2 linked regions of the Homo sapiens genome follow. The protein of the gene in region 2 interacts with the protein of the main gene of each other region in a pairwise test. Each region holds a gene or a part of one and is shown on either strand. Other genes may lie near its edges.

Evidence for each region.
Region 1: the proteins of FADS2 (region 2) and GRSF1 interact in a two-hybrid assay, tested with the Homo sapiens proteins (one study listed by BioGRID).

The regions. Positions count from the first base shown.
Region 1 is NC_000004.12:70,822,891-70,838,377, reverse strand, and holds part of GRSF1 (G-rich sequence factor 1), read left to right. Parts: intron 1-2,063; coding exon 2,064-2,220; intron 2,221-5,104; coding exon 5,105-5,260; intron 5,261-5,927; coding exon 5,928-6,071; intron 6,072-6,703; coding exon 6,704-6,839; intron 6,840-10,341; coding exon 10,342-10,526; intron 10,527-12,132; coding exon 12,133-12,254; intron 12,255-12,946; coding exon 12,947-13,082; intron 13,083-14,009; coding exon 14,010-14,059; 3' UTR 14,060-14,084; intron 14,085-15,487. UniProt on the Homo sapiens protein: Regulator of post-transcriptional mitochondrial gene expression, required for assembly of the mitochondrial ribosome and for recruitment of mRNA and lncRNA. Binds RNAs containing the 14 base G-rich element.
Region 2 is NC_000011.10:61,846,321-61,863,051, reverse strand, and holds part of FADS2 (acyl-CoA 6-desaturase), read right to left. Parts: intron 14,894-16,731; coding exon 14,768-14,893; intron 14,762-14,767; exon of another isoform or gene 14,191-14,761; intron 13,304-14,190; exon of another isoform or gene 12,993-13,303; intron 6,042-12,992; coding exon 5,981-6,041; intron 5,599-5,980; coding exon 5,522-5,598; intron 81-5,521; coding exon 1-80. UniProt on the Homo sapiens protein: Involved in the biosynthesis of highly unsaturated fatty acids (HUFA) from the essential polyunsaturated fatty acids (PUFA) linoleic acid (LA) (18:2n-6) and alpha-linolenic acid (ALA) (18:3n-3) precursors, acting as a fatty acyl-coenzyme A (CoA) desaturase that introduces a cis double bond at carbon 6 of the fatty acyl chain.

The sequences.
Region 1 (15,487 bases), on a different chromosome or scaffold from region 2:
CAAAACCATCTCCAGTAAACCTTTGTGAGCTAGCTTCTCTCTTTTTTTTTCTATGAAATTGACTGCGGTGATATCTGTAGAGCATCTACTATGTGTTAGACACTGCTTACATTTATTCCTTAAAACTAAACATTAAGCCTTTTTTTTTTTTTTTTTTTGGAGACCGAGTCTCGCTCTGTCGCCCAGGCTGGAGTGCAGTGGAATGATCTCGGCTCACTGCAAGCTCCGCCTTCCGGGTTCACGCCATTCTCCTGCTTCAGCCTCCCGAGTAGCTGGGACTACAGGCGCCCGCCACTGCGCCCAGCTAATTTTTTGTATTTTTAGTAGAGACGGGGTTTCACCGTGGTCTCGATCTCCTGACCTCGTGATCCGCCCGCCTCTGCCTCCCAAAGTGCTGGGATTACAGGCGTGAGCCACCGCGCCCGGCCTAACATTAAGCCTTAATGAAAATTATAGATAGGGCTGGGCGCGGCACTTTGGGAGGCTGCGGCGGGTGGATCACCTGAGGTCAGGAGTTCGATAGCAGGCTAACCAACATGGTGAAACTCCGTGTCTACTAAAAAAATGCAAAAAAATTAGCCGGGCGGGGTGGCGGGCGCCTGTAATCCCAGCTACCCGGGAGGCTGAGGCAGGAGAATCCTTTGAACCCGGGGAGGTTGCAGTGAGCCGAGATTGTGCCATTATACTCTAGTCTGGGCGACAAGAGCGAAACTCCGTCTCAAGAAAAAAGAAAAGAAAAGAAAATGACAGATAGTAGAAAGATATCTCTGTCCTTAGTCCGGTAGAGTGCAAGTCTTTTTTTTTTTTTTTTTTTGAGACGGAGTCTTGCTCTGTTGCCCATGCTGGAGTGAAATGCCGAGATCTCAGCTCACTGAAACCTCTACCTCCCGGGTTCAGGCGATTATCCTGCCTCAGCCTCCCGAGTAGCTGGGATTACGGGCACACGCCACCACACCCGGCTCATTTTTTGTATTTTTAGTAGAGATGGGGTTTTGCCATGTTGGCCAGGCTGGTCTTGAACTCCTGACCTCGTGATTCGCCCACCTCGGCCTCCCAAGGTGCTGGGATTACAGGCGTGAGCCACCGCACCTGGCCCAGTAGAGTGCAAGTCTTAAAGCCTGAGTTGTCTTCTTAGGTTATGGTTGTAGTGCTTCGTGGATTCTTACTAAATTCCAGTTTTACTTAATCCGATAAAAGAGACTTTACAAGTCTGTAGCCTCACACTGCTGCCGTTGTCTTTAAGATCTTTCCCTTAATCACTTGGTCTGGCATACCAGCTGACAGAGGAATATTCCCAAGGCGTCCTGCTGTCTTGTTGATTTACCCAGTCCTCAGTGTCTTGTATTAACTTATCTTTGCCTACCAAGTGAAGGACACACATTGAGCTCCACACTCAAGGCCCTCTGCTCTATGGTACCAACCTCTTTTGCCAGGTCACCTTCTTTGGCTCCTAATTTAAACAGTTGGAATTAATTGCTGTTATTCAAATGGGCATTTGGTCGTACTGCTTCTTTCTCTCGCCTTCAAACTGGAATACCCTATCTTTTATATCCTCATAAAAATTCTATCCTTCCTTCAAGGCCCATCTCATGTCACATCCTGATTCATCTGTTAGTGCTCTGATTTGAATTCCTGTAGTATTTTGTATCTTAATTATAGCACTCAGTATCTCATCTTGTATGCTTATCGTATTCTAGATAGCTATTTCAGATGAGGGCGGCAAACACTGTGTGTAGGGGCAATCAAATATTTGTCAAATTGTCAGGACCTTTCTTGTGTTGCCTTAACTACACTATTGTTAGCTATAATTTGGGGTTGATGAATTTTAAAACAAACCCTGAATGAAATTTGTGTCCTGCCAAACCTTTAGGATATACCTGCTTATGGCTTTTGGATGTACAATTTAAGCCAAAACAGGATGGGTTACATTGGTGAAGTTTACTTTTTGCTTCTGAAATAACATCTAGAATGTTAGTTTGTAGAATAAACATTTTCTAAGAATTTTTTTACATTTTTTACCTGTAAATGCAACTCTTTTTACAATTCTTCATTTCCTTTGGAAGGAGTCCAAAACTACTTACCTGGAAGACCTTCCACCACCCCCTGAGTATGAATTGGCCCCGTCCAAGTTAGAAGAGGAAGTGGATGATGTCTTTCTCATTCGAGCTCAAGGACTGCCCTGGTCATGCACTATGGAAGATGTGCTTAACTTTTTTTCAGGTATATTTTATGTATGTTTTATTTATTTATTTTTTTTCCTTATATTGTTTCTCACAAGCAGGTATGTATGTTTTAAGTATGTAATTTTGTCTGAGTAAAAGGTAGTGCTACAAATCCATGTCAGACTACGCTGTCACCTTCCTTTTTGATGGTTGGGAACTGTCTCATTCTGGTTGGTTGCATATACCAAATGATACCATGTGTGCTGTTTGCGGTATGTAACGAATTGAAAGACTTTGGGCCAGGGGCAGTGGCTCAGGCCTGTAATCAGCAGTTTGGGAGGCCAAGGTGGAAGGATGGCTTGAGGCCAGTAGTTCCATACCACACTGGGCAACACTGTGAGACTGTCTCAATTTACATATGTATAAAGACTTTGAATGCAACAAAAGTATTTTAACGTTAAGACTGCATAGTATGGGCCAGGCGCAGTGGCTCACGCCTGTAATCCCAGCACTTTGGGAGGCCGAGGCGGGCGGATCACAAGCTCAGGAGATCGAGACCATCCTGGCTAACATAGTGAAACCCCGTCTCTACTAAAAATACAAAAATTACCCAGGCTTGTAGTCCCAGCTACTTGGGAGGCTGAGGCAGGAGAATGGTGTGAATCCGGGAGGTGGAGCTTGCAGTGAGCCGAGATGGTGCCACTGCATTCCAGCCTGGGCGACAGAGTGAGACTCTGTCTCAAAAAAAAAAAAAAATCCATCATACTATGTAGGTTTTTTTTTTTTTGAGACGGAGTCTCGCTCTGTCGCCAGGCTGGAGTGCAGTGGCATGATCTCAGCTCACTGCAAGCTCCGCCTCCCGGGTTCACACCATTCTCCTGCCTCAGCCTCCCTAGTAGCGACTGCCACCACACCCAGTTAATTTTTTGTATTTTTAGTAGAGCTGGGGTTTCACCGTGTTAGCCAGGATGATCTCAATCTCCTGACCTTGTGATCTGCCTGCCTCGGCTTCCCACAGTGCTGGGATTACAGGCGTGAGCCACCGTGCCCGGCTGGTATGATGGAATACTACGTAGCCATAACAAAGAGTGAGATTATGTGCTTTGCAGCAATGTGGGTGGTGCTGGAGACCATTATCCTAAGCAAACTAACATGGAACATTAAACTTAATACTGTATGTTTTCACTTACAAGTGGGAGCTAAACAATGAGAACACATGGACACAAAGAGGGGAACAAGAAGACACCAGGGCCAACTTGAGGGTTGGGGAGAAGATTAAAAAATACCTATCGGGTCCAAGTGCGGTGGCTCACGCCTGTAATCCCAGCACTTTGGGAGGCCGAGGCGGGCGGATCACGAGGTCAGGAGATCGAGACCATCCTGGCTAACATGTTGAAACCCCATCTCTCCTAAAAATACAAAAAAAATTAGCCGGGCGTGGTGGCACGCTCCCGTAGTCCCAGCTACCTGGGAGGCTGAGGCAGGAGAATCGCTTGAATCTGGGAGGCGGAGGTTGCAGTGAGCTGAGTTCACACCACTGTACTCCAGCCGTGGTGACAGAGAGAGACTCTGTCTCAAAAAGAAAAATAAAACCTATTGGGTACTGTGCTTGCTACCTGGGTAACTAAATTATCTGTATACCGAACTCCCATAACACATGGTTTACCTATGTAGCAGTCCTATACATGTACTAAATAAAAGTTGAAAAACAAAATTACATGGTTTGAAATTATTTTTCTCTGTGGTATTAATATATACATATCAAAAAGTCAAGCCTGTCAGTGGAAATATGGAATTAAGGGTGACTCTTTATGTAATACAGACATTTACAATAGAAGGTCACTTAGTATCAAGGAATAAAGTTCCCTTAATAACATGTTTGGAGGGTTTACATATCTGTGGGATTTTTTTTTTTAGTTTCTGTATCTGACTATGATTTATTTTTATTAATTTTTTTGAGATGGAGTCTTGCTCTGTCACCCAGGCTGGAGTGCAGTAGCGCAATCTCGGCTCATTGCAACCTCCACCTCCCGGGTTCAAGGGATTCTCCTGCCTCAGCCTCCTGAGTTGGTGGGACAGCAGGCACCTATCACCATGCCCGGCTAATTTTTGTATTTTTAGTAGAGACAGGGTTTTGCCGTGTTGGCCAGGTTGGTCTCAAACTCCTGACCTCAGGTGATCCACCACCTTGGCCTCCCAAAGGGCTGGGATTACAGGCATGAACCACCATGCCTGGCTATTTCATTAATTTTTTTAGCTGCTCCTTGTGGAGCAGGAGTAAATCCTAGGCAGTATGCCCAGAGTGAGCCTGGTCAAACTTTTTTTTAAAGCCACTTGGCCACTTACATCTTGGACTACTCCCATTATAAAAAGTATGCAGTATGAAAAGGGGAAAAAGGCTGGGTGTGGTGGCTGATGCCTGTAATCCCAGCACTTTGGGAGACTAAGGTGGGAGGATTACTTAAGCCCAAGAGTTCAAGACCAGCCTGTGCAACAAAATGAGACCGCCTCTCTACAAAAACAAAAAGTTAAACTATGGTAATAAAATTACTCATACAGGAAATATTTTAGAGACCTATGGAGATGATTTTAAAGGAAGACACTTATGTATAAATTTAACTATATTGTATTTCCTTAAGTGATTGTAGAAACATTGCAATAGAAATAATGAATTTTGTGTTGGGCCTATCCTGATTTGCTATTTAATGATCAGGAAGGAGATCATAAGCTTCTGTGCTAAGGTTTGCTTATCTTTTCTACTTGGAAGGTTTTAGAGACTAAATCCTTATTGGTGTTTGGATGACTTCAGTGATGGGGATTTGTGTAAGGAATATGACACTTGTTTCCTGCTTTGTTGTTGGAAAACTGCATTCTTGTGACTTACATAATTGAGCTAAAAGTTTGATTTCTGTTTTCAATTGATTTTGCTCATACACTTTTAGACTGCAGAATCCGCAACGGTGAGAATGGAATACATTTTCTCCTAAACAGAGATGGGAAACGAAGGGGTGATGCCTTAATTGAAATGGAGTCAGAGCAGGATGTGCAGAAAGCCTTAGAGAAGCACCGCATGTACATGGGCCAGCGGTATGTGGAAGGTATGTGAAGTCAGATTATGGCTTTTTGGGATCATTGCATTAGGTTTTATACTTTTCAAGGTAGTTTTTATTTGATCCTTAATAATGAAGTATTTAGATTGTATGAATGCATTCTTTTATAGGATGTGAAAATAAAACATAAAGAGATAAAGTTTCTTTTTTTTGTGGGGGGGATGGAATCTCACTCTGTCACCCAGGCTGGAGTGCAGTGGTGCGATTTCAGCTCACTGCAACCTCTGCCTCCTGGGTTCAAGCAATTCTCCTGTCTCAGCCTCCCAAGTAGCTGGGACTACAGGCACATGCCATGATACCCAGCTAATTTTTGTATTTTTATTAGAGATGGGGTTTTACCATATTGGTCAGGCTGGTCTCAAACTCCTGACCTCAGGTAATCCACCCGCCTTGGCCTCCCAAAGTTCTGGGATTATAGGCGTGAGCCAGTGTGCCTGGCCAATGAAGTATCTTACAAGCTGTGAGAAATAAAGAAGTTATGCCCGCATGGTAAATATGCAATAAATGTCATTTGTTATTTTCTCTAGAGAAGCGCATAAAGATTAAAATAGTTATTGAATTCTCAGATAACCCAGCAAGTTGTAATGATTTTTTTTAATGGGTTTGTTCCTTTGTTATGTAAATTTTTCATCCCTGTTGGGTTTTTTCTTCGTAGTATATGAGATAAACAATGAAGATGTGGATGCCTTAATGAAGAGCTTGCAGGTCAAATCTTCGCCTGTGGTAAATGATGGTGTGGTTCGTTTGAGAGGACTTCCTTATAGTTGCAATGAGAAAGACATTGTAGACTTCTTTGCAGGTACTTTGCAGTTGTATTATGCTTGGGAGCTCATATCTTTTTTCCCTTGGTATCTCCTTCTATATCTTAGATGAGCCTGTTTCTGGGCAAAGGCATGCAGTTATATTAGGTTCTTTAGGGGAGAGCTCTTCACTTAAATTTCTAATATTTATAGATTTTATATGTGTTTTTGTTCTATCAGGCAGATTTTAGGAGGGAAGTCAGATTTCAGAATAATTTCATGAGGGTTTTACTATTGAAGGAAATAACTTCTCATAATAGTTGCTGTATTTGTGTAAGACAATAACAATTTATATAATTTAAAAGTATTTTCTAATTCCTAGAACCATTAGCAGTGAAGTCTGTGATTTCTATTGTTTCCTAGTATATAATTAACAGCAAAAAAAAAAAAAAAAACTGGTGGGGAGAATTGTATGTTTTGGGTGGGCTTCTTGGACCTTACCTATTCTGGAAATACAAGTATGTAGGTGTTGACTGACTTTTGACTGCATAATAATTTTCTTCCTGTCAAGCATGTATTCAGTTTTGGGACTGGCAAAACAGAATAAAAATTTTATTAGTATGTGAATGATGGTGTTAATTCTAAGGATAAAAAAGCCTGCTAGTAGCATTAAAATCTCTTGGTGTCCTAGGACTGAATATAGTTGACATTACTTTTGTGATGGACTATAGAGGGAGGCGAAAAACAGGGGAAGCCTATGTGCAATTTGAAGAACCAGAAATGGCCAACCAAGCCCTGTTGAAACACAGGGAAGAAATTGGTAATCGGTGAGTAAAGCAGATACTAATGATGCAGAAGTGTTACACATTAAGTCATTTTGATGAATGTGCTGTAATATGACTGAAAAGTTATCCAAACATAGAAAAGTAGAGAGAGTAGTGTAGTGAGCCATCAAATGCCCATAATTTAGATTAACAATTTTTTTTCGACTGCTCCTTTTTTTTTTTTTTGAGACAGAGTTTCACTCTTTTTGCCTAGGCTAGAGTGCAATGGCACGATCTTGGCTCACTGCAACCTCTGCCTCCCTGGTTTAAGCGATTCTCCTGCCTCAGCCTCCCAAGTAGCTGGGATTACAGGCGCCTGCCACCATGCCCGGCTTTTTTTGTATTTTTAGTAGAGACGGGGTTTCACCATGTTGGCCAGGGTGGTCTCGATCTCTCGACCTTGTGATCCGCCCGCCTCGGCCTCCCAAAGTGCTGGGATTACAGGCGTGAGCCACCGCATCCGGCTTGACTGCTCCTTGTGGGGCAGGGACTAACCCATAGACAGAGTACCTAGAGCAGCTAGATTAACACATTTATATATAAAATGTAACATCTGTTATATTTGCTTCATCTGGGTTTTTTTTAGTATGCATCTTTTAAAAAAATTTTTTTACATAATTTCAATGTTATATCTAACACTGTTAGCAATAGTATATTATCTAATAACAGTTCATAATAGCATTTTCCCAATTATACCAAAAATAGCCTTTTTTTTTTTGGCAACGGAGTTTCACTCTGCCGCCTAGGCTGGAGTGCGGTGGTGTGATCTTGGCTCACTGCATCCTCTCTCTGCCTCCCAGTTTCATGTGATCCTCCTGCCTCAGCCTCCTGAGTAGCTGGAACTAGAGGCATGCGCCACCATGCCCAGCTAAGTTTTGTATTTTTAGTAGAGACAAGGTTTTACCATGTTGGCCAGGCTGGTCTAGAACTCCCGGACTCAAGTCATTCACCCACCTCGGCCTCCAAAAGTGCTGGGATTACAGGTGTGAGCCAGCACACCGGACAAAAATACAGAATCCAGATAAGGTCTACACACTGCATTTGATTGTTATGTCCATAATTCTCTGTGTGTGTGTGTGTTTTTTTTTTTTTTTTAAGACACAGGGTCTTATTCTGTCACCCAGGCTGGAGTGCAGTGGCATGATGATAGCTCACTACAGCCTTGAATTCCTGGGCTCAAGCAATCGTCTCGCCTCATCCTCCCAACTAGCTAGAACAATAGGCATGTGCCGCCACACCTGGCTGTGTGTATGTGTGTGTGCGTGCGTGCGTGTGTGTTTGTAGGTGGGGTCTTGCTGTGTTGCCCTGGCTGGCCTCAAACTCATGGGCTCAAGTGATCGCCCGCTTTGGCTTCCCAAAACGCTAGGATTACAGGTGTGAGCCACTGCACCTGACCACTGATTCTCTTGAACTAGAGCAAATCCCCCTTACTTATTCTTCCCCCCTTTTTAAAAGCAATTGACTTTTGAAGAAATTAGATCAGTTGTCTTGTACAGTATCTCATGTTGACATCACCTCAGGATGCACATGATGATAAGTGGGTTCATTTGTGTTTTAACTTTAACTTTGGAGGTACAGTTTAAAATGTCAAATGTTAAATCACTGTTTCGTTAATTTTTTTTTTTACTGTTTTCTGGCCTTTTAAATCAGCTCCTTTGAAGTAAACAAAACAGCCATTCCAAAGCCAGTGTTTCAGGATCTACTGATAGAAGTGGTTCAAAGGTTTTTTGGTTTTTTGAGACAGGATCTTGCTCTGTCACCCAGGCTGAAGTGCAGTGCCACAAACACTGCTCATTTCAGCCTTGACCTTCTGGGCTCAAGCAGTCCTGCCATCTCAGCTTTCCTTGTAGCTGGTACCACAGGCATGCATCACCATGCCTGGCTAATTTTAGACAGAGTCTTATTCTGTTACCCTCGCTGGAGTGCAGTTGTGTGATACAGCTCACTGCAGTTGTGGCCTCCTGGGCTCAAGCAATCCTCCCACTTCAGCCTCCCAAGTAGCTGGGACTACAGATACATGCCACCACACCCAGCTAATTTTTGTATTTTTGTAGAGACGGGGTTTTGCATGTTGCCCAAGCTGGTCTCACACTCCTGAGCTCAAGTGATCCACCTGCCTCAGCCTCCCAAAGTACTGGGATTATAGGTGTGAGCCACTGTACCTGGTCTCCTGGCTAATTAAAAAAAAAAACAAAAAAAAACTTTTGTAGAGATGGTGTCTCACTTTGTTGTCCAGGCTCAAAGGTTTTTTTTTTAAAGAAGTAGTGCTCATCTAATCTTTATAGATTTGTAAACACAAGCTAGTTTTATAACTCTTAGTTTAGAAGGCCATGTTAAGAAAAAGGAAACTGTGCTGGGCGCGGTGGCCCATGCCTATAATCCCAGCACTTTGGGAGGCCGAAGTGGGAGGATCACTTGAGCCCAGGAGTTCAAGAGCAACTTGGGCAACATGGCAAGAACCCATGTCTACAAAAATAAAAAATAAAAAAATTAGCAGTGTGTGGGCTGGGCATGGTGGCTCATGCCTATAATCCCAGCACTTTGGGAGGCTGAGGCAGGTGAATCACCTGAGGTCTGGAGTTTGAGACCAGCCTGGCCAACATAGTGAAACCCTGTCTCTACTAAAAATACAAAAAATCAGCTGGGCGTGGTGGCGGGCGCCTGTAATTCCAGCTACTCAGGAGGCTGAGGCAGGAGAACTGCTTGAACCCAGGAGGCAGAGGTTGCAGTGAGCCAAGATCGTGCCATTGCACTCCAGCCTGGGCAACAAAAGCAAAACTCTGCTTCAAAAAAAAAAAAAAAAAATTAGCAGTGTGTGGTGGCAGGTGGCAGTAGTCCCCAGCTACTCAGGAGGCTGAGGCAGGAGGATCACTTGAGCCTAGGAGGTTGAGGCTGCAGTGAGCCATGTTCACACCACTGCACACCATCTTGGGTGACAGCAAGAAACCCAAGTTTCAAAAAAAAAAATTGTTCCAGAAGCTTGGGTTTAATAGATAGTCCCCTCCTGTGATAGCAAGTCATAATTGATACTTAGTTCTTGAATTCTCAGCCTTTTAGTGAAGTTCTGGGGAAGTTAGCTCTTCTTTTACTGTGACTTTTAATATCTTATACAGATATGATTAATTTGCACAGAATTGAATTTCAGAGCTTCAAGAGATTGTTAACCAGCAATTTAAAAAACCCTTATGAGATTAATTTTTTCTGTATACACAATTAACTTAAGCATAGTTGTTCTCATGAAGCAAAACAGAGTAGAAAATATTATTAAAATGTATGTGAAGAAAAAGTGTTACCTTGATGCAAAAACTTAAATCAGTGACCTACTCTGTTGTATATTTTCATGGGCTACTATCTGTATGCATTATTAGTTTTCCCTACCTGTTATCTTTTGACACCTGTGTTTCATAAGCTGTTGGAAATATAATGTATACATGTTTATTTTAAATGAGTTCAGTATAAAGTTACTTTGCACCATTTGTGCCTGTTTACTTTTGCTTTGACATAGATACATCGAGATATTTCCAAGCAGAAGGAATGAAGTTCGAACACATGTCGGTTCTTATAAGGGAAAGAAAATCGCATCTTTTCCTACTGCTAAGTATATAACTGAGCCAGAAATGGTCTTTGAAGAACATGAAGTAAATGAGGATATTCAACCCATGACAGCTTTTGAAAGTGAGAAGGAAATAGGTAAGGTCCTGCCTCTTCTTGAGACTCATTGGGTCTATCTTGAATGTTTTGGGTTTTGTGATTTTTTTTTTTTTGAGATGAAGTCTCGCTCTGTTGCCAGGCTGGAGTGCAGTGGTGCGATCTCGGCTGACTGCAGCCTCTACCTCCTGGGTTCAAGTGATTCTCCTGCCTCAGCCTCTTTGAGTAGCTGGGACTACAGGCGCATGCCGCCACGCGCAGCCAATTTTTATATTTTTAGTAGAGATAGGGTTTCGCCACGTTGGCCAGGCTGGTCTGGAACTCTTGACCTCAAGTGAGCCGCAGCCTCCTAAAGTGCTGGGATTACAGGTGTGAGCCAACACACCCGGCCTAAAGATTTAATAGGACTTTACATACTTTGAGTATATGCAGAAAGGCTTAATTATTTTGCTAGGTTTTTAATTTAATCATTTTTATTAACTATATCAAAAGCTGGGTAGTAAAAATGTGATAAAAGGAAGTAAGATGTCAACATTTAAATTAAGATGGGGGAAGATTTGGATAATGAGCAGGAATATTGACTGAAGTAAGGATTTTTTTTTTTTTGAGACAGAGTTTCACTCTGTTGCCCAGGCTGGAGTGCAGTGGCGCACTCTCGGCTCACTGCAGGTTCCGCCTCCCAGGTTCACGCCATCATCCTGCCTCAGCCTCCCGAGTAGCTGGGACTACAGGCGCCTGCCACCGTGCCCGGCTAATTTTTATATTTTTAGTAGAGACGGGGTTTCCCCGTGTTGGCCAGGCTGGCGTTGAACTACTGACCTCAGGTGATCTGCCGGCCTCTGCTTCCCAAAGTGCTGGGATTACAGGCATGAGCCACTGTGCCCGCCTGAAGTAAGGATTTTTGTTTGCTTCTGGATTTAATTATTTCTTTGATTCCTAACCCAGGGCAACATTTGGAATCTTTTAAGTTTCATAAATACTTTTTAAACTGGTACCCTGGGATTATCTTGTCACTATATATATGTGTATATATATTTTTGTTTTTTGAGACAAAGTCTTGTTCTGTGGCCCATTCTGGAGTGCAGTGGCACAATCATGGCTCACTGCAACCTTGAACTCCTGGGCTCAGGCAGTTCTTCCACCCCAGCCTCCTGAGTAGCTGGAACTATAGGCATGCATCACCATGCCCAGCTAACTTATTTTTATTTTTATTTTTTGTAGAGACAGTGTCTGGCTGTGTTGCCCAGGCTGGTCTCGAACTCCTGGGCTCAAGTGATTCTCCTGCTTCAGCCTTCCAAAGTGTTGGGATTACAAGTGTGAGCTACCACGCCCAGCCTTTGTTCTTTTTTTTTTTTTTCAGTGCCTATAATCTAGAAAGTCTCTTTTAGGGTTTAATTCATAATCATTTTACCTGCTCTCTGATGTTACAAAAAGGGCTAAGTTCTTAAACTGGTAATGGTCTGAGGCATTCAGTGCTTATGGGTGTTCAGGTGATATTTGTTGAGTGGCAGAAATTTCAGATCATTTTGGCTTTTAATGCTCTTAAGAGGAATTGAGGATTTGGACATAAAAGTCATACCTAATTAGAATCTGTTAATAACCCTTGAAGCTGTTATGTTTTAACAGTGCTTTCTGTTCCACCTCTCAGAATTGCCTAAGGAGGTGCCAGAAAAGCTTCCAGAGGCTGCTGATTTTGGAACTACGTCTTCTCTGCATTTTGTCCACATGAGAGGATTACCTTTCCAAGCCAATGCCCAAGACATTATAAACGTGTGTGGCAGTAAGATATCCAATCTCAATAGATTTGAACAAAAGTTCTAAAATTGAACTTGTATTAATTTGGGGAAGGTAGAGAAGAAAATATAGTGTTTCTGCGTTGGATAGTAAGATGGCATCTTCCTGGTTGCAAAGCTTGCTTCTTTTTCTGTAGCTGAAAAGTGTGGCTTGGTATTACTTTTTTTTGTGACAGAGTCTCGCTCTGTCGCCCAGGCTGGAGTGCAGTGGAGTGAACTTGGCTCACTGCAACCTCTGCCTCCCGGGTTCAAGCATTTCTTCCGCCTTGGTCTACCGAGTAGCTGGGATTACAGGCAGGCGCCACCATGCCCGGCTAATTTTAGTATTTTCAGTAGAGATGGGGTTTCACCATGTTGGCCAGGCTGGTTTTGATCTCCTGACCTCAAGCGATCCACTGTCCTCGGCCTCCCAAAGTGTTGAGATTACAGGTGTGAGCCACCATGCTCGCTGAGAGCAGATATTTGAAATGTCACTTTGAGTTCTGAGAAAAAGTAAAAAGCCAGAAGACATACTAGATATATAAATATATTACTGCTTAAAAAGATTTCCTAAAAAGAAATGTATCAAGTGTATGAATCAAAGTCTGAAAGAAAGATGAAGAGCCACCAGACTTCTAGGTAGGTTTACATCCATCATGTTCCTCTTGACTGCCTTTGTTTGTCGTTTAGTTTTTTGCTCCACTCAAGCCTGTTAGAATCACCATGGAATACAGCTCCAGTGGGAAGGCCACTGGAGAAGCTGATGTGCACTTTGAGACCCATGAGGATGCTGTTGCAGCGATGCTCAAGGATCGGTCCCACGTTCGTAAGTCCTGCCTTTGGCTTTTGTTGTCATTTTTGATGCTTGTCTTTGCTTACAAATATCTTTTTCTGTTTTGGGATTGTAGAATTTTTCCTTGAGAAATTTGTATTCTTTTAGTACTAGTAAATTAAACGTAACAGATAAAACACTATATTATAATTTAAAAAATTTTGTCTGCTAATTATCCTGCAAATCTCTTTCTTTCTTTTTTTTTTGTCACCCACGCTGGAGTGCAGCGGTGCCATCTCGGCTCACCGCAGTCTCAGCCTCCTGTGTTCAAGCAATTCTCCTGCCTCAGCCACCTGAGTAGCTGGGATTACAGGTGCCTGGCACCGTGCCTGACTAATTTTTCTATTTTTAGTAGACACAGGTTTCGCCATGTTGGCCAGGCTGGTCTCGAACTCCTGGGTTCAAATGGTCCACCTGCCTCGACCTCCCAAAGTGCCGGGATTACAGGCATGAGCCACCGCATCCAGCCTGTTTGTCCATTTTACATTTTGTTTGTTTGTGGTTGTTTGAGACGGAGTCTTGTCTGTCGCCCAGTCTGTAGTGCAGTGGTATGATCTCAGCTCACTGCAACCTCCGCCTCCTGGGTTCAAGTGATTGTCCTGCCACAGCCTCCCGAGTAGCTGGGACTATAGGCACCCACCACCACACTGGCTAATTTTTGTATTTTTAGTAGAGATGGGGTTTCGCTACATTGGCCAGGCTGGCTTGAACTCCTTACCTCAGGTGATCCTCCCACTTCGGCTTCCCAAAGTACTGGGATTACAATAGGCGTGAGCCACCGTGTCTGGCCTAAATTTTGTTTTTAATTAGGGAAAGGAAAGGGCAAAGGGTTTGAGTTGCTGTCTGAACTGTGAGAAAAATGGCTGTAATATTTTTCTACCTTTTCAACTTTTTAAAACTAATCTTTCTCATTATCCTCAGATCATAGGTATATTGAACTGTTCCTGAATTCATGTCCAAAAGGAAAATAAGACTCTAGGGGCTCCAGATAATAAGGTAAATTTAAGAGGTAATACTGTGGGCTGGGTGCAGTGGCTCACACCTGTAATCCCAGTACTTTGGGAGGCCAAGGTGGGCGGACCACCTGAGGTCAGGAGTTCAAGCCAGCCTGGCCAACATGGTGAAACCCTGTCTCTACTAAAAATACAAAAATTAACCGAGCATGATGGTGGGTGCCTGTAATTCCAGCTACTCAGGAGGCTGAAGCGGGAGAATCACTTGAACCCGGGAGGCAGCGGTTGCAGTGAGCTGAGATTGTGCCACTGCACTCCAGCCTGGGCAACAGAGCGAGACTCAAAAAAAAAAAAAAAAAAGAGAGAGATACAACTGTGGAAATTATTTGCTATTGATAAACTAATAATCATTCACTCACTAATTTGTAATATGGTAGAAACCATTCTCTTTTTATTTTTCAAATTTTTTTAGGGACTAGGTCTTGCTCTGTTGCCCAGGCTAGCAGTGGTGCGATCATAGCTCACTGCAGCTTCAACCTTCTGGGCTCAGGTGATTCTCTCACTTCAGCCTCCCAAGTAGCTGGGACTACAGGTGTGTACTACCATGCCTACCTAATTTTTTAATTTTTTGTAGAGATGGGGTCTCACTATGTTGCCCAGGCTGGCCTTGAACTTCTGGCCTTAAGTGATCCTGCTGCCTTTGCCTCCCAAAGTGTTGGAATTACAAGAGTGAGCCACCCCGCCTGGCACCATTCCTTTTTAATAAAGATCAAACTAATGATAATTGAAGTGTCAATATAAGGAATGAAAATTCTCGCTCTGGCTTCTCAGATGTGGGGGGCAAAAAAAAAAAAAGAAAATTCTGCTGGGAAATAGAATTAATTATGATATTTTTTCATTTTTTTTAAATTTTATTTTATTTATTTATTTATTTTTTGTGAGATGGAGTTTCACTCTTGTTGCCCAGGCTGGAGTGCAATGGCTCGATCTCCACTCACTGCAACTTCCACCTCCCGGGTTCAAGAGATTCTCCTGCCTCAGCCTCCCAAGTAGCTGGGATTACAGGCATGCACCACCACGCCCAGCTAATTTTTGTATTTTTAGTAGAGACGGGGTTTCTCCATGTTGGTCATGGCTGGTCTTGAACTCCTGACCTCAGGTGATCCGCCTGCCTCGGCCTCCCAAAGTGCTGGGATTACAGGCGTGAGCCACTGTGTCCGGCCTACTTTTTATTTTTTTTGAGACAGAGTCTTGCTTTGTTGAGCAGACTAGATTGCAGTGATGCAGTCTGGGCTCACTGCAAACTCCGCCTCCTGGGTTCAAGTGATTCTCCTGCCTCAGTCTCCCGAGTAGCTGGGACTGCAGGTGCCCGCCACAATGCCTGGCTAATTTTTTTGTATTTTTAGTAGAGATGAGGTTTCACCATGTTGGCCAGGCTCATCTTGA
Region 2 (16,731 bases):
AGGAGGGCTCCCAGGATGCCGTAGAAAGGGATGTAGGTGATGAAGAACCGGATGTAGTAGCTGACGGCCCAGGCCAGGTCCTGCGGGGAAAGATGAAGTTAGGTGCAACCTGCCCTCTCCTCTGCCCTGGCACCAAGTGCGTGCCCCAGATGTGCACACACCTCACACTCAGGCCTCTAGAAGCTGGACCGCAGCCCACTGAAATGCAATGGGCAACTACACGCCACCTGCTTGCTCGGGGTTTGCATGGCTGCCTTTGTTTCTAGGGAAATGCTGAGTGTTTTAGCATCAGGAAGTGACTGTGCCCTGTTTTTCGGGAGAGAAACGGACCCTCCTGCTGAGGGGCAGCCATGGGGTAGGGGTGGGGGTCAGCAGCCCTCTCGTGGGGCAAGGGCGATTCTGAAGGTGCGCCCCCAACCCGGGGCCAGGTCCCCAACCGTCCCCCAGTCCTGTCCCTCCTCCTCAGCACCTGGGTCTCCTCCTGGCATCTCCTTCCAGCAGGACAGAGGGCTTGGAGGGGTAGGGAAGGTCAGAGGTACCATCGTCCCTATCTCAGAGCTCTCACAGCAGAGGCTGGCCTCCCCACGCCCCACTGTCATCCTGTGTCCCTCCACTCTGCTCTCCTCCCTGCCTCTGGCTGGACTGGTGTCAGGGACTGGGCTTGGACGTCTTCTCTCATGTACTGGGAGGGTGACTTCACGGCTCCACCCTGTCCACTGTCTCTCTGCCACCCAAGTCTTGTCTCAACTGGACCACAGCATCAGCTTCCCACAGTCTCCTGCTTGTCCTCGTGGCCATGGCAACCAGAGTGGCCTTCGCTCCAAGCAGGTCCCAACTCTCCCCTGCTAAAGCCCCCATCCCACCCAGTCACCCACGGAGCCTCATGGGGTTAAGAACCTGTCTTTACTCAGCCCCCTGACCTAGCTTACTCCCTCCCCGGGGCCTCTGCATGGCCTGTTCCCACTGCCAGGGCGCTCATCCTGCCATGAGTTTAGGTATGGTGACATGCCACAGGCTCAGCACAGGTGTCCGAGGTGGAAGGTGAGGCCAAGGGACTGCCCTGTCTCACTTCAAACGACTGAAGAACAAGGTCACATTTGTGTCTTAAAATAGATCCCCACCCACTGGAGAGGGGGAGACTAGGAAGTTATTCCAGCGGCTCAGACATGAAATGACAGAGGCCTAAACCAGAACCCACGGCACTGACAAGGAGGTGACAGATTCCAGAACTGTCAGAGGCAACGGTGGCTGCATTTGTGCCTGCTTGGCTGTGGGGAATCTAGGCTGGTCCTAGGTGATCAGGGGTCGGGTGCCAGCAGCTGAACAGGAAAGGAGGAAGGGAGCGCTCAGGAGAGGCTGGAGATGGCCTTGGGGCCAACATTGGCCGAGGGCAGGACCTCACGTTCCAATAAGGTGGCCTTCAAGGTGAGGAGGGAGGCAGATGTAGCCAGTTCTGCTCCCACTTTCCATCACATTCCTTCTATTCTGTGTGTGTGGTGCAATAGTGTGCAGTGTATCTACACATATATGGAAACAAAATGAGGATGGGGTTACGGATTATTTTTTTTTGGAGATGGGATCTTGCTTTATTGCCCAGGCTGGAGTGCAATGGTGTGATCATGACTCTGTCCCAGGCTCAAGCCATACTTCTACCTCAGCCTCCCGAGTAGCTAATTTCTGTTTTTTTTTTTTTTTTTTGAGAGGGAGTCTCGCTCTGTCGCCCAGGCTAGAGTGCAGTGGTGTGATCTTGGCTCACTGCAAGCTCCACCTCCTGGGTTCATACCATTCTCCTGCCTCAGCCTCCCAAGTAGCTGGGTCTACAGGTGCCCGCCACCACGCCCGGATAATTTTTTGTATTTTTAGTGGAGATGGGGTTTCACCGTGTTCGCCAGGATGGTCTCGATCTCCTGACCTTGTGATCCGCCTGCCTCAGGCTCCCAAAGTGCTGGTATTACAGGCATGAGCCACTGTGTCTGGCCTTACCTGGATAATTTTTTTTAAGTTTTTATAGAGATGGGGGGGTCTCACTTACTTGCCCAGGCTGGTCTCGAATGCCTGTGCTCAAGTGATCCTCCAGCCTTGGCCTCCCAAAGTACTAGGATTACAGGTGTGAACCATTGCCCTGGCCCAACTTTTATTTTTAAGAGACAGGGTCTCACTCTGTTGCCCAGGCTTGAGTGCAGTGGTGTGATCACAGCTCACTGCAGCCTCAAACTCCTGGGCTCAAGCCATCCTCCTACCTCAGCCTCCAAAGTAGGTAGATTACAGGCGCGCATCACCACGCCCAGCTTTTTGTAGAGACAGGGTTTCGCCCATGTTGCTCAGGCTGGTCTCAAAACTCCTGGCTTCAGGTGATCCCTCCCACCTCAGCCTCCCAAAGTGCTGAGATCACAGGCGTGAGCCACCATGCCTGGCCTGGACTTCTTTTGAGTGTAGAGAGCAACACATACACAGAGATCGCTGGTTTCAGGGGCAGAGAGCCCAAGAGATCAGAAGCAGCCAAAGAGGCGGAGCGAGGGGGTTGGGAAGAAGCCAGCAGAGGTGGGGACCTGGAAGCCAACAGGAAGAACTGCAAGAGGGAGTGGCCAGTGGTGTCAGATACAGCAAAATTCCAGGAGGGTGAAGCGTGGGAGCATCTCAGGATCCAGGACGTGGCCCCGGGAACAGGGAACCTTGCCAGAGCATGTAAATCTCCCCGGGAAGCCTCCTTCAAAGATCTTAGGGTTTGTCACCTCTTTCCTCTAAGCCAGGGTCCCCCAACCTCCACACTATTGGCACCTGGGACAGGCTGCTTGTTGTCATGGGCGGTTCTCCAGGGCATGGCAGGGTGCTAAGCACCATCCTGGCTAGACGCCCACCAGATGCCAGTAGCACCCTCCTCTCCTGAAGTTGTGACAATTAAAAGTGTCTCCGGATACTGCCAAAGGGCAGAACAGCTCCCCTGAGAACCAGTGCCCCAGGTCATAGGTGCGCTCCTGGCTCTGAAAGCCCCATGGGCTCATCACATTGTCCCCACTCTGCCATCCCCTTTTAGGAACATAGGGTGATTTCTTTTCCTGTTTAATACTTTGTTCCTTAGGGAACAAGCACAGTCAAAAACAAACAAAAAAAAGAAGTTGCTCACTGCAAGCTCCGCCTCCCGGGTTCAAGCAATTCTCCTGCCTCAGCCTCCTGAGTAGCTGGGACTACAGGTGCACACCACCATGCCAGGCTAATTTTTTGTATTTTTAGTAGAGACGGGGTTTCACCATGCTGGCCAGGCTGGTCTCGAACTCCTGACCTCATGATCTGCCCGCCTCGGCCTCTCAAAGTGCTGGGATAACAAGCATGAGTGACTGCGCCCGGCAATAGGCCACTTATGAGTTAGAACGGGATTGGATGCTAGAGGCAAGGAGAGGGTGTAACATGTATAAGGAGGGAAAAAACATAATGGTGCTAGTCTCTAACTTGAGCCACTGGGTGGATGATGGAGCCATTCATTAACATGGAGACCATCAGGATTAGGTTGTGGGAGAAGAGGAGAGGACTTACATTGAATATGTTGGATTTGCAATGGCTGGGACACCTCCAAATGGAGTTAGATTGGATATATGGGTCCAAGACTTGGAGATAAAATTTGACTTGGCTGCTCTTAAATTCACAGTCAGGGTGAAAAGGACAACTTCAGTTAGCAAGCGATAAAACAGTAATCAACAGGCCGGGCGCGGTGGCTCACGCCTGTAATCCCAGCACTTTGGGAGGCTGAGGTGGGCAGATCACCTCAGGTTGGGAGTTTGAGACCAGCCTGACCAACATGGTGAAACCCTGTCTCTGCTAAAAATACAAAATTAGCTGGGCATGGTGGCGCATGCCTGTAATCCCAGCTACTTCGGAGGCTGAGGCAGGAGAATTACTCGAACCCAGGAGGCAGAGGTTTCGGTGAGCCGAGATCACGCCATTGTACTCCAGCCTGGGCAACAAGAGCGAAACTCCACCTCAAAAACAAACAAACAAACAAAAAACAGTAATCAATAAACAAGTCCACATTTGGTTAAGAGAGGAAAAACTTCCCCATGGCTATTGGTTGGAGCATGAGGGACAAATAGACTGCTGAGAAAGACTGGATTTTAAGCAAGCATTTCAGAAAGTGACAATTTAGTCTTTGATAATTTTCAGATAAACAATTTATCTGCCGGGTGCAGTGGCTCACGCCTGTAATCCCAGCACTTTGGGAGGCCAAGGCGGGTGGATCACGAGTCAAGAGTTCGAGACCAGCCTGGCCAACATGGTGAAACCCCATCACTACTAAAAATACAAAAATTAGCCAGGCATGGTGGCCGGCGCCTGTACTCCCAGCTACTCAGGAGGTTGAGGCAGGAGAATCGCTTGAACCCAGGAGGCGGAGGTTGCAGTGAGCCGAGATCGCACCACTGCACTCCAGCCTGGGCGACAGAGCGAAACACCATCTCAAAAAAAAAAGATGACGTAATTACAATGGGCCCTAATGCAATATGACCAATGTCCCTATTTTAAAAAAAAGGAAAAATTTTCAAGAATCCACTTTTGGTGAAGAAAAAAAGAAAATTAAAAAATAGGCCAGGCGTGGTGGCTCATGCCTGTAATCTCAGCACTTTGTGAGGCTGAGGCGGGCAGATCACTTGAGGCCAGGAGTTCGAGACCAGCCTCGCCAACATGGAAAAACCCCATCTCTACTAAAAATACAAAAATTAGCTGGGCATGGTGGCCGGTGCCTGTAATCCCAGGTACTTGGGAGGCTGAGTCACAAGAATTGCTTGCACCCAGGAGGTAGAGGTTGCAGTTGAGTCGAGATCACACCACTGCACTCCAGCCTATGTGACTCTGTCTCAATAAATAAACAAATAAACAAAATAATTTTTTTAAAGAGGGATATTTGGACACAGATACAGATACAAATATGCAGAGAGATGATGTACCGAGAGGGAGGACGAAAGCCATCAACCAGCCGATGAGAGGCCCAGAACAGAGCCTTCCAGAGCCCTAAGGAATCCACCCTGCTAACACCTCAGTTTTGGACTTCCGGTCTCCAGAACCGGGAGAAAACACATCGCTGCTGCTTATGCCACTCAGTTCGTGGTGCTTTGTCATACGGTCTTCGCAAACGACCACACCTGTCATCTCAGCCAACGCCCAGCTGCTCCAACTTCAAACCAGGGTGTGGGGCAACCCAGTTCATGGGACTCAGGGCCCACAGGGAGCGGGGAAGGGAGATGGCCACACTTGCCTCTCATCCTGCTGCCTTTGAGAACTTTCTCGGGGGCTCTGCAAAAGCAGGGGCTGCCCCAGTGGACTCCCTATGTCTGAGGGAGAGTAGAGATCTTTAGGACTAGGTCCTGGTGGCCCCAGAGGGAGTCCTTTCCTGAGAGGCAGCTACCCCAGGGAGGAGATGCCTGGGGCCCCACAGGCTCCACTGGGGCACACGAGGAGGCAGCGTAGGACCCCCGGGTCCCCCTGTCCCAGTCACCCTCCTCCCCATGCCAAGCCAGCTGTGTCCCCAACTCACCACCCAGTTCTTATGGACGATCATGGTCATGATGATCTGGTACTGGAAATACATGGGGATGAGCAGCGGCGGCCCAACTGCAGGAGAGAGACAGGCGCTTAGAGGCATCCATTCCACCCTGCCTGTGCCGGAAGGTCAGGGGAACCCAGGCCCAGCACTGAGTGCAGGGGCCAGCCCTGCAGACGTGGGCAGAAGCAGCCAGGGACCCCGGGGCCTGCAGAGAAGGCTGGGAGCCCTTGAGGACGTGTGTCACCCCTGGGACTCTCTGAGCCTCTGTGTCCCCATCAGGCCTGTAACACAGGCTGAGGGGTCTGCACAGCAAGGCTGCTGTGGCCCCCGCTTCTAACAAGTTTAGTGTCACTTTCTGGATCTGAAAAAGATGTCAGGTAGGAGGGAGAGACACGCCACTCTGGGGGGAGGGGAGGGTCCCAGAGTGATTTCGGGGCGCCGAGCACTCACTCAGGAAGAAGTATTCGTGCTGGTGATTGTAGGGCAGGTATTTCAGCTTCTTCTTGCCGTACTGAGGAGAGAGGAGAGATCATGAGCACCCAGTAGCCTCAGCTCCCAGCCTCCCATGTTCCCCAACCCATCCTGCAGCCACCATCCCTTCTATCTGCTCAGGGCACACCACTGTCCCTTTCCTGTCAATCTGCACCCTGGGCCCACCAAGCCTGGGGCCCCTCCAGCCCTCTGGGCTCCCCATGCTACAGCCAGCAGCGGCCAACGCTTCCTCAGCCCTAGCCGAGCACTGGCCCGATGGCATCGATCCTCTACAAGGCCGGCACTTCTGAGGCTGAGGCTCAGCGTTAAGCCATGGCCCAAGGCCACAGGAAGTGGCCCTGACTGGGATCAGAACCCAAAAAGCTGACTCTGAGCCCATGTGACAGGCACTAAACAAATGTTTGTTGAATGAATGTGCAACAGAGCAACTCTCGGCGGAGCATAAGCACCCAGGGGAGTTCCTAGGTCACCATGGAGAGCTCCCGGAGCCCGCAGTGGCAGGGAGAACCTAGGTAAGGGCCCCAGAATTGCTGCCAGTCATCAGGCTGGGAGCATCTGCCTCCCTGGAGCCTCCCTGTAATTTACAAGAGTGAATCACTCCTCCCCAGCTGGAGCCTAACCTTGAGGACAGAGGAGGCCACAGCACAGACTCCTCAGGCCACATCTGGCTACCTGAGGTCCCCATGACGGCACCGGTTTCTTCCCCATCAGAGCCTGCACCTTGGGCAGCCTGATGCCCAGAGGCTCTAATGGAGGAGGGCTGGGCTGGGTCCTGGGCATCGTCATTGTCCAATGCCAGGCATAGGAACCACGGCCCCAGGGGATCCCTGGAGCCCTTAATTCCATGGTCCAGCCCCTAGGGACCAGCCCACCCTGCACTTCCAGGACTGAGACCAAAAGATGCCGCTCACTGAGTGACACCTGCTCCTCTCCCTTGCAGTGTGGGGAGGCTGGGCTTGCAGCCAGCAGATGCGCTTGAGCCGACTCTGCCTCTCACCAGTGCTGAGACTATGTGAGTCGCTTAGCCTTGCTGAGCCTTGTCTGGCATTTGAATCAGTGGTTGGTAAGAGGAGCCAATGAGAACATGGGCATAATGCCAAGTGCTGACCCCAGGACACTGCCCGTCACCCTCCCTATACCCCTGGATCCGAAGGCCAGAGATGCCTCCTCCTATAGTGTCCAGTCATACTTATTGCAGTCAGGAGGTCAAAGTGAGTTACAGAGGGAAGGGACCTTGGATGATGCCTAGGCCAGTGCCCCTCTCATCCAGGTGAGTAAAATGATTGTCCAAATCACAGGGAGAGCATGGATTCCTGAGGGAAGAGGCTGTGGGTGGGAACCAGGTCCACCCTGTCCCCAAGGCTTGCATCTTGGCGCCAATGGCCATGGTCACGGCACAACCAGCTGAAGAACCCCCAGAAACAGTCCCTTTGTTCTGTGTGGCCTCCTGAGCCTTGGCAAGGATCTCACTCATTCCCAGAAAGGACGGCCACTTGCAGGAAGACTATTATTAAGGCCAGGGCTGAGGCCGGCCATGGAGAGGTCCGAGCCAGGGAGGCCTCACAGGAGCCTTTCATGAGTCTCCAGTGGACGGAGTTGCTGGAGGAGCCAGCACTGCAGACGTTGCTCTCGAGGTGGCCAGTCTCGGGGCCTGCAGTGGCCCACAGAACAGGCCCCTGAGTCCTGCTCTAAGCTTCTCCCAGAGGCCAGGGAGCAGGCTCATAGCCCCAGCCTTGGCATGCAGTGTCTCCAGCTCTGCTCAAGAGCTCCTCCCCACCGCATCTCTGTCCCACAGAGCATCCCATCCCTCTCGGGCTGGGCCGGCTGTACTCGGAAGTGAGCACAGAGGGCAACCCAGGCAGGTCAGCAGGGGCCAGGGCATCCTATGGAGGGACTGAGGGCTGGCCACGCTGTTGTGGGGGCCTGGGAGGCACCTGGGGAGTCTGTTTGGAGCTGCATGTGCACAGTAGGCACCCTGTTCTCATGGGTGATGGTGGCCTGTGGGTGGACAACACAGGTTACAGGGGCTGCCTCTGCTGGTAAGCACTGCTGGCTTTAGTGTGCGTCCCTTCAATGCCCCAGAATGACCCTCGGGAGCCAGGGGGTCCTGCTTGCCAGGCAGCAGCAGGCCTCAGAGTGGGCCTCTGTGGGACGGTGAGCAAAATGCTCATCACAGTCACGCACGTGTATGTACATGCGTATGGTGACATACCACTACACATCTGTGCCCATCTCGATGGCCTCAGCTGCAGCGGCTCTGCTGGGGGATGGCCAATACTCCCCTCCCAAACCAGAAAGTACAACTGTGGGTTTGGGATACGAAGCCCTGCCCTGTGGCTAACTCTCTGCTCTCATCTTTCCCACGCTCAGTTCTTTGCCAGAGCTTTGCCGTTTAAGTCATGGGACCAGGGAAGGGAGGGAGAGGTATTTTAGAATGTAGCAAGCTAGGGGGGTGAGTGCCTGGCTGTTTAATTGATCAGAAAGCTGGGGCTACCCAACAAACATATTTCACAAGGGCCCCCAGGACTCCGAAGCTGTGGTTTGCAGCCAGATGGTTTGGGTTCGGACAGTGGTGTTGCCTTTTCCTTGCTGTTACCTTGAACAAGTCACTTCATGTCTCTTGGCCTTAGCTGTTCCATCCATGAAATGGGTCGATGACAGCTCCCGCCTCACGGGTTAAGCAAGGATTAAGTGACGTTGTGCACGCACACTGCCCATCACAGTGCCCGGTCCACAGACTCACTCAACAAGAGTCAGGCTTCTTCCCAACTGGGGGCTCAGAGCCCCAAGTGTGGGGAGTGGAGGACCCCACACATCTCCTCCTCCAGAGGAGTCCCCGTCACACACACAGAGAAAGCCCAAGAGGCAAGGAAGACACATGACTTTCACCTGGCTGGGCTGCGGCCAAGGGTGTGGGTGGCACACATGGACCTCCCCCTGATCAGCAACAGTGCCTTCCCAGGCTGCGGTTGACAGGCAGAGACGCAGGCCAGGGGCAAGGGAGGGAGTGCAGCCAGCCCTGGCGGCGGGGCTGACTCTCCTGTCCTCGGCCTCTCCATGCACCTCAAGGCCAGGCTTGGATGAGGGCCTGGGGGATGCCGGGCCATGTGGAGGGGACCTTTCAGCTTTGGAACAAAATGTCTGAGGAATGACAAGGGCCCTCCTTGTCCATCGAGGGTTGGGGGAGGGGAGCTGTCGCAAAGCCCAGTCTCTGCCTCTGGGAACCTGCAAACTCACACACAGAGAGAAACAGGCGGCACGACCTCCCCAGCAGGAGCAGAATGGCAAGGTCCCAGTCCAAGGTCCCCGAGAGGGCGGCATGTGTGTCCCAAGGCGGGATGGGTGGCTTAAGCCTGTTCATGAAGGTCTGCCTCAAGCAGGAAGCCCAGGAGGTTAGCTTCAGACAGTCAGAGCAGCAGAGGTGGTTTCCCGGATGGGAGGAGGAGGAGGATCTCAGGCACCGCACGGCTTCTGAGGCCCCTTTACACTGCTACCGGGATAATGGTCTCACCAGCCCCCTCAGAAAACGGGGATATGGCAAAAGAAGAACAAAACAAGGCTGCTGCCAATATCACCGCTATTAAACTCAGCTCTGAAATTTCCCGTCAATGCAATAAAACCCAAAGCAGAAAACAGAGTGGAGCTATTAGAAAGAAAGAGACTACTTCAACATCCAGATTAGAAAGAAAGAAGGAAAGGAAGGAAGGAAGGAAGGAAGGAAGGAAGGAAGGAAGGAAGGGAGGGAGGGAGGGAAGGGAGGGAGGGAGAGAAAGAAAGAGAGAGAGAAAGAAAGAAAGAGAAGAAAGAAAGAGTGACTACACTTTTTTTCTGTTTGTTTTGTTTTGTTTTGTTGTTGTTGTTGTTGTTGTTGTTTTGAGACGGAGTCTCACTCTGTCGCCCAGGCTGGAGTGCAGTGGTGCTATCTCAGCTCACTGCAACCTCCGCCTCCCAGGTTCAAGCGATTCTCTTGCCTCAGCCTCCAGAGTAGCCGAGACTACAGGCGTGTGCCACCATGCCCAGCTAATTTTTTGTATTTTTAGTAGAGACGGTGGTTTCATTGTGTTAGCCAAGATGGTCTCGATCTCCTGACCTCGTGATCCGCCAGCCTCGGCCTCCCAAAGTGCTGGGATTACAGATGTGAGCCACCACGCTGGGCCGAGAGACTACGTTTTCATTATTTTCTAGGATATGATCATCTACCCAGGAAACTCAAAAGAATCAACCGAAACACAACTAGAATTACGAAGAGACGTAAGTGGACACTAGCGGGACAAAAGATAACTATCCCATTCATTGGAAGGCCATGCAAACAAAAATTTAGAAAAAAAAGAAAATTAAGATAACTACCCCAATATCCACTGCTTTCCCGAGTACTGGAGAACCTCCAATCATAATGACAAAATATAAAACATATAAGGATTGCGTTTTAAAAGAAACATCCATGAGACATATAAAGAAGTACAGACCTTGGCCGGGCACAGTGGCTCATGCCTGTAATCCCAGCACTTTGGGAAGCTGAGGTAGGCGGATCACTTGAGGTCAGGAGTTCGAGACCAGCCTGGCCAACATGGTGAAACCCCATCTCTACTAAAAATACAAGAATTAGCCGGGCATGGTGGCGGGTGCCTGTAGTCCCAGCTACTCGGGAGGCTGAGGCAGAACGATGGCTTGAGCCCAGGAGGTTGAGGCTGCAGTGAACCGAGATTGCGCCACTACGCTCTAGCCAAGGTGACAGAGCATGACCTTGTCTCAAAAACAAAAACAAAAACAAAAAGAGAGAGAAAGAGAAGGGGAAAGGCACCCCACTACGAGCTTCCAATGAGTTAAGTGCCAAGGATGAATGAGTGTGAGTGTGGCCCCCAAGTCATCCAGACGGTGGCCTGGGAGAGGACAGACAGCCCAGCCCAGGCCAAGCCCGGGCTCAGGAGCACTCACTGCCTCATATGAAGAAGCAATGCCACCTCATGGGGGTGCCGGGAAAACTGGCCGACTCTGGAGAAAAGTGAAGGCCGAACATCATCCTACCCATATCCCATTTGGCAGAAGTTAAAGATTGAAACACAAAACCTTAAAGAACTGAAAATAATATGTATGAAGAACTTTCTAAGCACACAAGAAATGAATCTCTGGGTAAAGTGAATATACTTTGCTACATATGACAAAAAGAATCCTCCTGGACAGCATCAATAAGACCAAAATGCAGAAAACGAGGAAAAGGGCTTTACTGCGGAGCCCGCGCTATTCACAGTTCCACGTGCTGGGAGCCGCTTGGCAGGGCTGCTTTGCTTATCTGTCCCCAGAGATAGAAGCCCTGGCCGGCATCCTTGCTCTGGAGACTGGGATGGTGGCTTGAGGCCCTGGGACCTGGCCGCCCCACCTGGCCCTGCTGTGGTGTGTGGGACTGGCATGTGACAAGTCCCATCAGACCCACTGTCACTTCAGTCAAGAGACCAGGGTTCCTTCCAGGGCGGCCGGGTCCTGCGAGAGCCAGAGCACAGGTCAAAACACCAGGAACCCAGGAAGCACCAATCCTTTCCCCATGAGTGTGAGAGCGGGGATTTCCACAGAACACCGCGGCACTGGCTGGGGACTTCCAAACGCCGCTGGTAACTGAACAACCAGATCCTCACAGCCTCCCACCCCTATCTCCTGCCCCAAAGCCAGCGTTCCAGAAGTGTCGGGGGTGAGAAGATGTCGGGAAAGGAGAGGCTTCTCTGGCCACCACGCACAAGAAAGACGCCTTCTTGCCAGTGCAGCTGGTGGGACTAGACTTTCTTTGTTGGAGACACAGAGAACATCTGTCAGGACAGCCAACGGCTCTACATTACAAAGCCTCGCCGAGAAAATGAAGCCTTTGTCCCCACTTATCAGAGGGCCTCAAGTTCATCAGTTCTGTTTTCTAGACACCTCTAATTAAAGCTGGCAAACTGTTTCCTAGAAGAATAACAATAGCCTGTACTTTGGCAGAAAATGGAATCCCTGGCAGCTTAGAGAGGCTTCCAAAGTACAGAACTGTGGCTGATTTCCTGCGAATTGGCCATGTTACAGAAAAATCCACGTTCCTGCTCAGATAGTCTCACGGGTGGAAATGAAATAAGAAGAGGGTGTACAAACCAGAACTGGGGAGCCAGGCTGTCTCCTCGCCTTGTTCCAAGCCTTAGGCGCCAAGGCTGTCGGGAATACTACTTCACTCACGGTGCCACTCCTTAGTGAGGGAAAATTGGCCTCACTTGGCAGATGCTGATTGAACCCTACTCTATGCATGGCTTTGTGGCTCCTAAGATCTGCATAAAAGCAACAAGGATCTTCTAAACTTTCATTTTAATCATTAATGTATTTCCAAAAAGCAGCGCATATATTTATTTTTTTCTTCTAAATTAGGTCCCGACATAGAGGCTCTACATAAAAAAAAAGAATGTATTAAATAAGAACATTTTTTTGTGGAACGCATTGGTGGGGCTTTTATTCAAAAGAAATTATGGGCCAGGCGCGGTGGCTTACACCCGTAATCCCAGCACTTTGGGAGGGCGAGGTGGGCGGATCACGAAGTCAGGAGTTCAAGACCAGCCTGGCCAACATGGTGAAACCCCGTCTCTACTAAAAATGAGAAAATTAGCCAGGCGTGGTGGTGTGCACCTGTAATCCCATCTACTCGGGAGGCTGAGGCAGGAGAATCACTTGAACCTGGGAGGTGGAGGTTGCAGTGAGCCAAGATCGTGCCACTGCACTCTAGACTGGGCAAGAGAGTAAGACTCTGTCTCAAAAAAAAAAGAAAAGAAAAGAAAAGAAAGAAATTATGAACTACTGACACTCAATTTGTCTACCATATAAAATAATGTAGGTCCTGTTATGGTTCAGAAGTACAACAGAATACCATATGGCTAGAGGGAGACGAGACCTGTCTACATGAACTGGGGGGGAAGGGCATCCACATTCGCAGAGGTGGCAAGTTGCAGGATACAAGGTAGAATTTTTTTGTTTTTTATTTTTTTATTTTTGAGACAGAGTCTCCCTCTTCTGTCCCCGCTGGAGTGCAGTGGTGCAATCATAGCTCATTGCAGCCTTGAGGCTCCCAGGCTCAAGTGATTCCCCCACCTCAGCCTCCCCTGCACCTGGGACCACAGACGCACACCACTACACCTGGCTAATCTTTTGTATTTTTCGCAGAGATGGGGTCTCACTATGTAGCCCAGGCTGGTCTTGAACTCCTGGGCTCAAGCACTTCTCCCACTTCAGCCTCCCAAAGCGCTGGGATTACAGGTGTGAGCCACCACAGCTGGCCTAAAATTTTTGTTTGTAAAGAAACAGATATATGCATGTTTATACACATATAAAAATATCTAGAAGACTGTATAGCATCTTGTTAACAGTGGTTACCCTCAAGGGCATAAAATTTGGGGCAAAGGGGAGGTTTGAGAGACTCACTTTTTTTTTCTTTTTTGAGACATAGCTTTGCTCTGTTACCCAGGCTGGAGTGCAGTGGTGTGATCATAGCTCACTGTAGCCTCAACCTCCTGGGCTCAGCTCAAGGGATCCACCCACCTCAGCCTCCCCAATAACTGAGACTAGGCACGTGCTACCATGCCTGGCTAACTAAAAAAATATGTATTTTTTTAGAGACAGGGTCTTGCTATATTGCCCAGGCTGAGACTCGTGTTTTAATTCTGGATATTTCTGTACTGTTTAGAAGTTTATACCAAGTGTGTTCTATATTTGTAGTAATAAAATGAACTAATATGAAAATAAAATGGTATAGTAAATGGAAGGCAATGGCCTAGCAGTCCAAAGGTCTGGGGCCTCACCCTAGACTGGCCACTAAATTACGTGACTCTCTCGGCTGGGCACGTTGGCTCATGCCTGTAATACCAGCACTTTGGGAAGCCGAGGCAGGCAGATCATGAGGTCAGGAGTTTGAGACCAGCCTGGCCATGGTGAAACCCTGTCTCTACTAAAAATACAAAAATTAGTTGGCATGGTGGCACATGCCTGTAATCCCAGCTACGTGGGAGGCGGAGGCAGGAGAATTGCTTGAACCCAGGAGGCGGAGGTTGCAGTGAGCCAAGATTGTGCCACTGCACTCCAGCTCTGGGCAACAGAGCAAGACTCCGTCTCAGAAAAAAAACTAAATAAATTATGTGACCCTGAACGTGTTCCATCCTCTCGCTGACCTTCAATTTCTTATCCACTGGTGAAGCAGATTGGACCAAGCCACGTTGAGGCTCCTCCCAGTGTACAGGATGATGATTCTCCAAATAAGGTTTTCTCAACATGAGCTAGTCGGTTGGCGACCAAGCTTGAGCCCCTGAAATCTTGCCTTCCTGCTGAACTGGAACAAGATTTCCCTCTACCCTGGGAAAAAACAAGCCAGAAAATGCCCTTCCTGGCCTAAGGGTAGGAGGGAGACATCTACCATTCTAATGAGGAGCTGTGTCTGTATTTACAGGTGAGGCCATTCCACATACATTCCAGCCAGAACAATTCAGGGTACCTAGGAGAGGTATCTGTGTAGCAGGAGATGTGGACCTGCCTGGCTGAATGTCAGCTCTCTAGGCTTCCTTCCCTGCTCCCTGCTCAGGCCAAACACTTCCTAGGTCAACACCAACCCCTTAGTCGTACCTCGATGGCTGCCATTCGCCCAGGCCAAACACTTCCTAGGTCAACACCATCTCCTTAGTTGTACCTCGATGGTCTGCCATTCGCCCAGGACAAACACTTCCTAGGTCAACACCATCCTCTTAGTCGTACCTCGATGGGCTGCCATTCGCCCAGAACAAACACGTGCAGCATGTTCACATCGGGATCCTTGTGGAAGATGTTAGGCTTGGCGTGGTGCTGGAAGTGGCGATGATTCCACCAGTTGGCAGAGGCACCCTGTGGGGAGAGAGGGGTGGGGATGAGCCATGCAAGCCACCAGGGAACCGAGCTCGCTTGTAACAGGCCCTTCTTAGGAGCAGTTCCCGGAACCTTCAACCCTCGGGGATAGCACTTCAGGCCCCCACAAGGCCAGAATCCAGCCCTGCCATGACTGAGCTCAGAGCATGCGCCAGCCCCAGATGGAGTGAAGTCACTTTATCTCTCTAGGCTTCAGTTTCCCTGATCATAAGACGATGGTGGCAGATGAGGCGTGCTGCTGAGGGACCACACGGTGAGCGCTCCAGCAGGTGTGGCAGCCAGTCTCTGCCTCTCCGTCACCAGGTGTGGAACCAGAGCTGTGCAAGGTAAAGCCGAGGTTTCAGGGACAGTGAGAAGTGGTCCCTACTATGTGGCCCAGAAATCTCCCTCCTGAGCGTATATCCAAGAGAAATGAAAACATGTCCACACACCAACTCATAGAGCAGTGTTCACAGCAGCATTCTTCAAAAGAACCAGAAGAGCAAAAGCAACACAAATGTTCATCAACAGATGAGTGGGTGAATGAAATGCAGATTATCCACACAGTGGAATATCATTTGGCTGTGCCGTAAAACAGAACGAATCACTGACCCTTGCTACAACACGGATGAGCCTGGAGAACATGCTAAGGGAAGGAAGGAGCCACAAAAGACCACATATCACATGATTCCACCGACATGAAACGCCCAGAATAGGGAAATCTATAGAGACAGAAAGCTGAGCAGTTGTGTAGGGCTAGGATTGGGGTAGGGGAGGGAGTGAGGGGGTTGGGATGTGATGGCTAAGAAACGTGGGGTTTCTTTTGAGCATCATGAAGATGCTCTAAAATCGACTATGATGATGGTTGCATAAATCTGTGAATATACCAAAAGTCATTGATTTGTCTACTTTAAATGGGAAAACTGGCTGGGCGTGGTGGCTCACACCTGTAATTCCAGCACTTTGGGAGACAGAAGCGGGTGGATCACTTGAGGTCAGGAGTTTGAGACCAGCCTGGGCAACATGGTGAAACCCCGCCTCTACTAAAAATACAAAAATTAGCCGGGCGTGGTTGTGGGCGCCTGTAATCCCAGCTACTCGGGAGGCTGAGGCAGGAAAATCACTTGAACCCGGGAGGCAGAGATCACACCACTGCACTCCAGCCTGGGAGACAGAGCAAGACTCTGTTTAAAAAAAAAAAAAAGTGAGAACTGTATCTCAATAAACGATTTGGAGAGCGCAGTTGTGCTGCTATGCTGAGGGTGGGTCCTGAGATTCGTGTCACACCAGGAAGGCTGGAGGGAGGGCTCAACAAACAACTGCTAACATGAACAAGAAGAACTTTCCTGTTTCTAACACTCAAATAGGATCCCATGAGACAAGACACATAACATGGATATTTCTTTTGAGGCCACAGGTGTCCGTCTCCTCAGCTCAGAGTTATGGCCCTCGACAGTTGCCCAGCGACAGATGAAAGAAAACACACTTTCCTGACCCTTTGGCATCACGACTATCCTGGTGAACTGTTGCCGGATCAATGCTTTGGCTAAGGGTTTGCAAAAAATGCCTATTTGCTAAACAAACATTTTACTTGGGAGATGCTTTTGGCACACACAGTCTATGGACACTAATAGCCATGGGTGGGAACAGCAACGGACAGCTGTGGCCTTTGCAGTAACCTCAGGGCCCTGGAAACTGGCAGGCCTCAAAACCCATGAGAGAGAGAGAGAGAGAGAAAAAAAAAAAAAAAGTCAGAGAGTGAAAGCTCAGAGGCTTCACTTTGGGAGGCTGAAGCGTGTGGATCACTTGAGGTCAGGCGTTCAAGGCCAGCCTGGCCA